Linked DNA regions of Homo sapiens. The protein of the gene in region 1 interacts with the protein of each later gene in a pairwise test. Each region holds a gene or a part of one and is shown in the gene's direction. Other genes may lie near its edges.

Region 1 (4,572 bases):
GATGTAGGAATGAAGGGGGGAACTCTAGGGCCACCACCCCCCCACCTTGGGCCAGAGACACCCGGAAAAATTGTGATTTGACTTCCCCCTCTCTGGGGCTGAGAGAGGAGAGTATGCCTGGTAAATAACAGGCACTTACTAAATGCCGAGCCCTAAGCAGCGAGTACTAACAGGGGTCCCCTTCAGCCCTATCCCTCCCCAGGACTTGGATCAGGCCACCTCAGGCTGGGGGCCCAGATCATTCAGGCCCCCTCTCTCTCTGGCTGTTGTGGTCAGCATAGACTCACCTCCGGCTCCCAGCTGGGCAGGCTGGAGGGCACCCCCTCCCACACCAGAGAAGGGGAAACTGAGGCACAGAAAGGGCCCTATTCCAGAGCCAACCTAGTCTTGGTTCAGAAAATCGCATCTCCAATGTGTAGCCACGTCTACAGGGGCCAGGAAATCTGGATGCAGGTGCAAAGCTGGGGCCGGGGTTTGCCCAGAAGGTTTGCACCAAAGGGGAAGTGACAGCCTGACTGTGTCCTCCCCTCTTCCTTCAGCTTTGAGCCCTGATGCAACCCTCTGAGATGGGGGTAACTGGGGGCTCCCGCGAACCGACTGCCTGACCCATCCCCTTCCTCTTCTAGAAAGTGCACAAGCGTTACCCCGGGGGTGGGGGGGGCAGAGGCAACGGGGAAGCAGGAAGGGGCTGAGGCTGGTTTTGGACTCTGCACCGTAGCCTCTGGCCTACAAGACAGAGCATCCTCTAGATTCTGGTCTGGCCCCTCCAGATCCGCAGCCCTGACCTTACCCCACTGGCGGGATCTAGTCCCCTGGGGGTCTCTCTGATTATAGGAGCCCTTCCCCCATCTATCCCAGTTCCCAGGGGCCCCTGGGGCTCACCTGTCTCCAGGTGCTGAGAAAAAGGAGACCCCTGCCTCCCCCCACATTGAAGAGAAGCCCCAGGGACAAAGAGGAGTTTGCACCAGCGACGTCTCAGAAGACAGGGGATCCAGCCTCAGCCTCCGTGGGCTGGAGGGTGACAGGGGCTCTTAGTGGTCACCCCCAGGCTCCAGTGCCTCCAGCGGCCGCACTGTAAAAAGGCCCTGCAATTAGAAGGGGCCTTTGGCAACCCCGAGGCCGGGCAGCCCATTGTACAGTTGGGGAAACGGAGGCCCAGGTGCCCACACATGGGCAGAGGCTGACCCCTGGGGCGCACGGAGGCCCTGACCTAGCCTTAGGACCTCCCTTTTCCCCCACTTCCTCCACAAAGAGGTTGTGGGAAGGGGGCTGTGACTCCGTAGGTGTGAGTGGGAGTCGGGGGAAGCTGAGCTTGCAGTGGGGATCTAGCTCCTGGGGGTCTGTAGGGAACGGGGGGGGGGGGGGACACGTACATTACAGGCGACCGTCCAGCCACACTCCCAGAAACTCCCTGGAGATGGACTTGGGGGTGCCAGGCAGAAAGCCACATCTGGGACTCTGGAGAGAATCACACAGAGACGCGAAATCGGAGACTCTGGGTCGAGGCCCCCAGCCCCACCTGGGCAGAGTCTGTCCTCGGACCCCCGCCCGCTGTCCCCCGGGTACGGCCTGCCCCAGCGGGCGCGGGCGGGCGCAGTGGCCAGGGACGCCGAAGCCCCAAGTCTGGCCGACTTCGGCCTGCTTGGTGCTCGAGTGGGGCCGGGGCGGGCGGAGAGCGAGGCTGCGGGAGGCAGCGGTGGCAGGAGCGGGTGGGCGGGGGCGCTGACGTCAGACCCGGGCCCGGGCGCCGGCGGCCGCTCCCCTGCCACATCCTGGTGGCCGCGCTCGCAGCCGGGCCGGGCCGTGCGCCGCGCAGCCTGGCAGCCTCGCGCGCAGCCACCGGGGAGCGGGCGGGAGTCATGCAGCGGCCTTGAGCACTAGGGGCCGGCGCTGAGGAGCGCGCGCGGCGGGAGGGCAGCCGAGCATGGAGCTGAGCCTGGAGAGCCTGGGGGGCCTGCACAGCGTGGCCCACGCGCAGGCGGGCGAGCTGCTGAGCCCGGGCCACGCGCGCTCGGCGGCGGCGCAGCACCGCGGCCTGGTGGCGCCCGGGCGCCCGGGCCTGGTGGCCGGCATGGCGAGCCTGCTGGACGGCGGCGGCGGCGGCGGCGGTGGGGGCGCCGGGGGCGCGGGCGGCGCGGGCAGCGCGGGCGGCGGCGCGGACTTCCGCGGGGAACTGGCGGGCCCGCTGCACCCGGCAATGGGCATGGCCTGCGAGGCGCCGGGCCTGGGCGGCACCTACACGACGCTCACGCCCCTGCAGCACCTGCCGCCGCTCGCGGCCGTGGCCGACAAGTTCCACCAGCACGCGGCGGCCGCGGCCGTGGCCGGGGCGCACGGCGGCCATCCCCACGCGCACCCGCACCCGGCGGCCGCGCCGCCCCCGCCACCCCCGCCGCAGCGTCTGGCGGCCAGCGTGAGCGGCAGCTTCACCCTCATGCGCGACGAGCGGGCGGCGCTCGCCTCCGTGGGCCACCTCTACGGACCCTACGGCAAGGAGCTGCCCGCCATGGGGTCGCCGCTGTCGCCGCTGCCCAACGCGCTGCCGCCCGCGCTGCACGGCGCCCCGCAGCCCCCGCCGCCGCCACCACCCCCGCCGCTGGCCGCCTACGGCCCGCCAGGCCACCTGGCTGGGGACAAGCTGCTGCCGCCCGCCGCCTTCGAGCCGCACGCCGCGCTGCTGGGACGCGCGGAGGACGCACTGGCCCGCGGGCTGCCCGGAGGCGGCGGCGGCACAGGCAGCGGCGGAGCGGGCAGCGGGAGCGCCGCGGGGCTGCTGGCGCCGCTGGGCGGGCTGGCGGCGGCCGGGGCGCACGGGCCGCACGGGGGAGGCGGCGGCCCCGGCGGGAGCGGCGGCGGCCCCAGCGCGGGCGCAGCGGCCGAGGAGATCAACACCAAGGAGGTGGCGCAGCGCATCACGGCGGAGCTGAAGCGCTACAGCATCCCGCAGGCAATCTTCGCGCAGCGGATCCTGTGTCGCTCTCAGGGCACGCTCTCCGACCTGCTGCGCAACCCCAAGCCGTGGAGCAAGCTCAAATCCGGCCGCGAGACCTTCCGCAGGATGTGGAAGTGGCTGCAGGAGCCAGAGTTCCAGCGCATGTCGGCGCTGCGCTTGGCAGGTAGGAGCGTGGCGCGCAGGGCCAGACCCTGGGGGCGCCGGCTCTGGACTCCCGAGCACCTAGCGGGGCGGCGGCCGATGCCCGGGGCCAGCGCCCCAAGCCCCGCCCGTGCGCCCCGGCAGCCCGGGACCCCCTATCAGGAAGCTAGACCGCGATCCGCGCCGCTGCCCGTTTGTACCGTTGCCAAAAGGGAGAAAGGGATTGTGCCGCCTCCCCGCCCCCCGGTCGCCGCTTCTGCCCCTTTCGGGAGCGCGTAGGGGTTCTCTAGTCCTTGTTAGACTGCTGGGAGGCTCCGAGCCTCTCCCCAAGCAGCCCTCAGGGAAGCTCATTGTGTGTGTGCGTGTGTGTGTGTGAGCGCGCGCCTGTTGGGGGGAGCTGTGTCCCCGAACGAGCTGCTGTTGTCGGCTAAGGTGCCACTCCCCTCCTCCAGAGTGGGTGGAGAGGGGCTGTTGAGCCCCCAGCCCCGGGCCACAGAGCTCCGAGACGTTGCGGCGGGCGCCTGCAGCTCAGCAGCAGAGGCCGAGCCCGCGCTCATCCCCCCACCTGCCCCAGCGCGCGCTTCTTTGTAGTTCGGCCCCGCGATCGATACCCCCTCCCTCTCCCCTCCGGCCGCTGGCAAAGGTCACCCGAGAATGGCGGGGGAGGGGCGGCCCCGGGGACCCTCGGCCCGCGCCGCCCGGAGGCCTTCACACCCCGACCCGGCGCCCGCCCCGCGCAGTTTGGTCGTGGCTCGGGTGCGCGCGCCCCTGCCCGCCTGGCTTTGGGGTTTTGTGTCTCTCATGTCCACTTCTCTCCTCTCTCGGTCGGAACACACTGGTATCTCTATGTTTTTCTCTTGCTCTCCGTTTTGCTCTTGTTCCTGCTCATTATCTCTTCTCCCTGTCGGTCTCTCCGCCTCTGTCTCTGTCTCATACTCAGCCACCGGCCCCCTGGGGACCCTCCTCCCTCCTCCCTCCCAGCTGACAACAGCTAAGTCCACACCTGCCCTCTGACAGGCAGCCCGGCCAGGCCCCCATTTCCTAGGTGGGGGTGTAAGGGTGCAGGAGGGCCCCTGGCCTAGGTGGGGGTTTCTTTCCCTGGTGGTGCTGGGGAGGGGGCTGTCCACCCGGGCCACAGGGACAATAGCCGCGGCGGCTGGCGCCTGATCGATCGCTTCTCCGAGCACAAGGGCGAGAAAGGCGGGGGCTCTGGGAGGCGCCCCACTAGCAAAGAGGCAGAGGGGCTTGCGGCTGTGCCCCCAGGCAGCCCGTCCAGGCAGGGGGGCTGGGCGAAGAGAGGACAGCGGGGTGTCCTGTGCTGTTCCTCCCTAGAAAGCCATTCCCTCCCTCCACCCCAGGAGGACCAGACAACCCCCTGGGAGCCTGGACCCACAGGCCGGCCTCAGTTTCCCCCTTCTGCAGAGCAAGCAAGGTGACTAGCTGGAACCTCTTATGGGATTCTTAGATTTTTCTGCTTT
Region 2 (3,804 bases), on another chromosome or scaffold:
ATCTGTATTTATTAGAAATATAGGTATTTCTAATAAATATAAATTATGTTGCAGGTGATGGATTCCTGATAAAATGTGCTTTCTCATTTTTGCAAAAATAAAAAGTAGTCAAGAGCATCAGTAATTAAAACAACTTCATTTTTGTAAGAAGAAGGAATTCTAAATTATTGGCCAAACTGGTAAAATCTGCTTTTAAAGAACAATTAATCTAGATGAGAATATTTTTTTCAAATGTCTTCAGTAAGCACTCAAAAGTGATGTCTTTCATTTAATACAGGAACTGCCCATTGGGATAGCATTAGTTCCCATAATTCGCAGATGTGGATACCAGGCAGTTTTAACAGAATAGTTTTCCTACTACTTTCTCAGGCTCATCTTTTGTAAATGATAGGAAGTATTTAAGTATATAGACCATTTTAATCACTGGAAAACCTGATCAGAAAACAGTTTCATCATTAAGGCTGTCAGGTTTCTTTTGACATATTTATTTATTTAAAGATAGTGAGAACTCTGGGATAGGGAGGTTTTCTTTTCCTTATTTGGAGCCCACATGTTGTGAAACTGATCTGCTTACAGTGCTTTTCTTAGATTTCCTTTATTTTATGGAGTTTACTTATTTGGACTCGAATATTTTAATCCCAGAACCAGTGATCAAGTTGATAATTTCTGAGACACCTGATGTAGGTCTGTTTAGCTTAATAAAGGTGTAGATTTGCATCTTTGGAAAGGTTTTGTTTCCCTGTTAATTAGACTAGGGAAGGCATGGCTTCCTGGAATACTGTATCTTAGTTGTTGACACTGCCTTACCTGTTGTGAGGAATGCATTGAATGTTTGTTCACTGATAAAGAGGAATTTAAGGAGAGGCTCAAACACTCAACTTAATGTCTTTTGAATTTTAAGTTTTCTTGCTAACATGGAAATTGACTATGTAATTCTCATTTATCTGAACTGCTAAGCTCCCAAAATTGAACTTCATAGGTAAATTATTTGGAGATTTTGATCATGTTAGTATTATTTTTCTGGTTTATATGCTTTTCCTAATTTACTTCATGTTTCTTCTTTAGCATGAGAAAAATTACTTGCCAAGAAACTCAACTAAACTTGAGCCTTATAACTGGGATAAAATAGTTGAGGTGGATGGAACAGGAAATATGTCTGTTACTTTGCTGGGGGAGGATGGAGGACAAAAACAAACCTATTCAGTAGTCTGAGTTGATGCAATTGATGCAATACTTAGAAAAAGAACAGCCTTTTTTCTAGTTTAAAATAGTTTTTCGAGCCAGGTACTGTGGCACTCGCCTCTAGCCCCTAGCTACTTGCATCTTCAGTCCTAGCTACTCCAGAGGCTGGGGCCGGAGGATCACTTGAGCCCAGGAGTTCAAGTCTAGCCTAGACAACATAGCAAGACCCCTCCCCCTGCTACCCCTCCCCCATCCCCTGCCCCCCACCCCCCTTTTTTAAAAAAAAGCTTTCTCAGTAAGTTACTAGTACCTTTTGCTTTCAAATATTCAGAACAGTCAGGGCCATACATATAGTTCAAACACCTGAAAGGTCAATACATTTCTAGAAAAGACTCCTTTTAAGAGTGAGAATTCTGTAACATGAAGCCACATGGATATTGTAAGGCACTTCTTTGGACGCTTCCCTTAGGTGAGTGACTGTAATAAATCCCAAATGTGCATCCTCCTCCCTTAAGTGTTCTGACACAACCAAGTGGTGCAGTGAGCCTGTTTCCATATGTTGTGCAAAGCTGAAAGTGATAACGTGGAATGTTGCTTCAGTTTATTAGTTATGTTCTGTGTTTGGTTAGGCTGTGACCATGTGGCCTCCTCATGCGTTTAGCCAAAGTATATTGAATGTTATCAACAGATTTGAACATTTCCAATGTGTGACGCACATCTTGTTCCCAAAATTTTAGTGTTTCCTGCCTAATTTGAAGGAGAAAAGGAGAGTGTGGGATTGGAATCACCATGGGAATCCATCAGTTTTTTACCTCTAAGTAAAGAATTCCTGTTGGTTTTAGGCCAAAGTCAAGCAGTGGAATGAGCCATAGGGAGAGGGACACTGCTGATACCTGTCTATGGCCTAAGAAATGTAGCTGCAGAAGTTAAAATGCATATATATAAATTAGATAAGGAAAGCATGGTTTTTAAGTAGTTCCTATAGAATTTAGACCTAATAGTTTCTGCTTTTTATGCGCAGTTCCAATGATTTAAGGAATCATTAAGTAATGATATGTAAACATAAATATGCATAGATATTAACTTCTCTTTAATATTCTCTTAAGCTGGCCAGGTGTGGTGGCTCACGCCTATAATCCCAGCAGTTTGGGAGGCCGAGGAGGTGGGTGGATCACTTGAGGTCAAGAGTTCCAGACCACCATGGTCAACATGGTGAAACCCCGTCTTTACTAAAAATACAAAATTAGCCGGGTGTGGTGGCACGTGCCTATAACCCCAGCTACTCAGGAGGCCAAGGCTGGAGAATCGCTTGAACCTGGGAGGCAGAGTTTACAGTGAGCTGAGATCGCACCCTTGCACTCCAGTCTGGCCAAAAAGAGCGAAACTCCATCTCAAAAAAAAATTCTTTTAAGTTCTCTTAATATCTCTTAACATTAAGTTCTCTTAATATCTGTGCATGTTTCTGTTTAGATATTATTACTTAATGATTTCATGATGCCTCTACTTCACAGCAAATTTATTCATCCAAAAAATAGATCACATGAGACCCCCTGATTTATACTAATTTATACTTAGTTTATTCGTTGCTTTATTTAATAAATACTTCTTAAGCACTCATTAGGTGCCGGGCACTACACTAGCTGCTGGATAGGTAATGGTAGACAAACCATTCTTAGCTTTTGAATGTGTAGTCCATCTTGTGGGAGAGACACATTAGGTTTTGAATGTATAGTCCATCTTGTGGGAGAGACACATTAAGAAAATAATAACAATGCAGGCATGTAATTAAGTAAGTTCTAAGACACAAAGCTAGGGGAGAGGATAGAAGAAAGACCTGCATTTAGCGTGAGGGTGAATTGTGTGTGTGATCTTCAAAAGCTTCCTGAGGAAGAGGCATCTGAGCTGAGATCTTAAGGGTGAAATGATATTAATTAGGGAATGGGGGCTGGGCAGGGAAGGGGCAGAGGCGAAGAATATTTCAAAGGGGCTGACCTAAACAGGAAGGGATGTGCCTCCTAGGAAGAACTGACAGAAGGTAAGTGTGAACTAGGCAAGCCACAGGGATGGTGTAAGATGAGGCCTCAAATTTGATAATGTAGAAGGCATCAAGAACTGCCCCAAGGGCCACGTAGGGTGAAGGGTCAGATGGGTAGGATAGATAGGAAGTGCTCTGCATTTGGGATAAGAAAGAGGGACCATTGGGACTGAGACGATTAGCAGGGCTTCAGAACAGATACGGGATTGGAGCTTGTGTCAAAGAATGGAGAGATCGGGAAAGAAAGGTAGGGAATTCTAGATATGAGGGAACACACATGAAATTTATTTTCCCCTGTAAATGCTGTGTCTGCTTTCATTTCTCCATAGCACAGTCATACCTCCTTTCTCCCTCTTTCCCTGTTGCTGACTGTTAGGGGCTGAATTATGTCCCCCAACATTGCTACGTTGAAGTTCTAACTCCTAGTACCTCACAATGTGGCCATATTTGGGGATAGGACCTTTAAAGAGGGGGTTAAGGTAAAATGAGGTCACATGCATGGGCCCTAATCCAGTAAGACCAGTGTTCTTATAAGAAGAGGAGATGAGGATGCAGACACATAGGGAAGACCATGTGAAGACACATGG

What was found.
Region 2: the proteins of ONECUT3 (region 1) and SH3RF1 interact in a two-hybrid assay, tested with the Homo sapiens proteins (one large-scale study listed by BioGRID).

Annotation. Positions count from the first base shown.
Region 1 is NC_000019.10:1,751,739-1,756,310, forward strand, and holds the start of ONECUT3 (one cut domain family member 3), read left to right. Parts: upstream 1-1,767; 5' UTR 1,768-1,924; coding exon 1,925-3,116; intron 3,117-4,572. UniProt on the Homo sapiens protein: Transcriptional activator. Binds the consensus DNA sequence 5'-DHWATTGAYTWWD-3' on a variety of gene promoters such as those of HNF3B and TTR.
Region 2 is NC_000004.12:169,264,262-169,268,065, reverse strand, and holds part of SH3RF1 (E3 ubiquitin-protein ligase SH3RF1), read left to right. Parts: intron 1-3,804. UniProt on the Homo sapiens protein: Has E3 ubiquitin-protein ligase activity. In the absence of an external substrate, it can catalyze self-ubiquitination. Stimulates ubiquitination of potassium channel KCNJ1, enhancing it's dynamin-dependent and clathrin-independent endocytosis.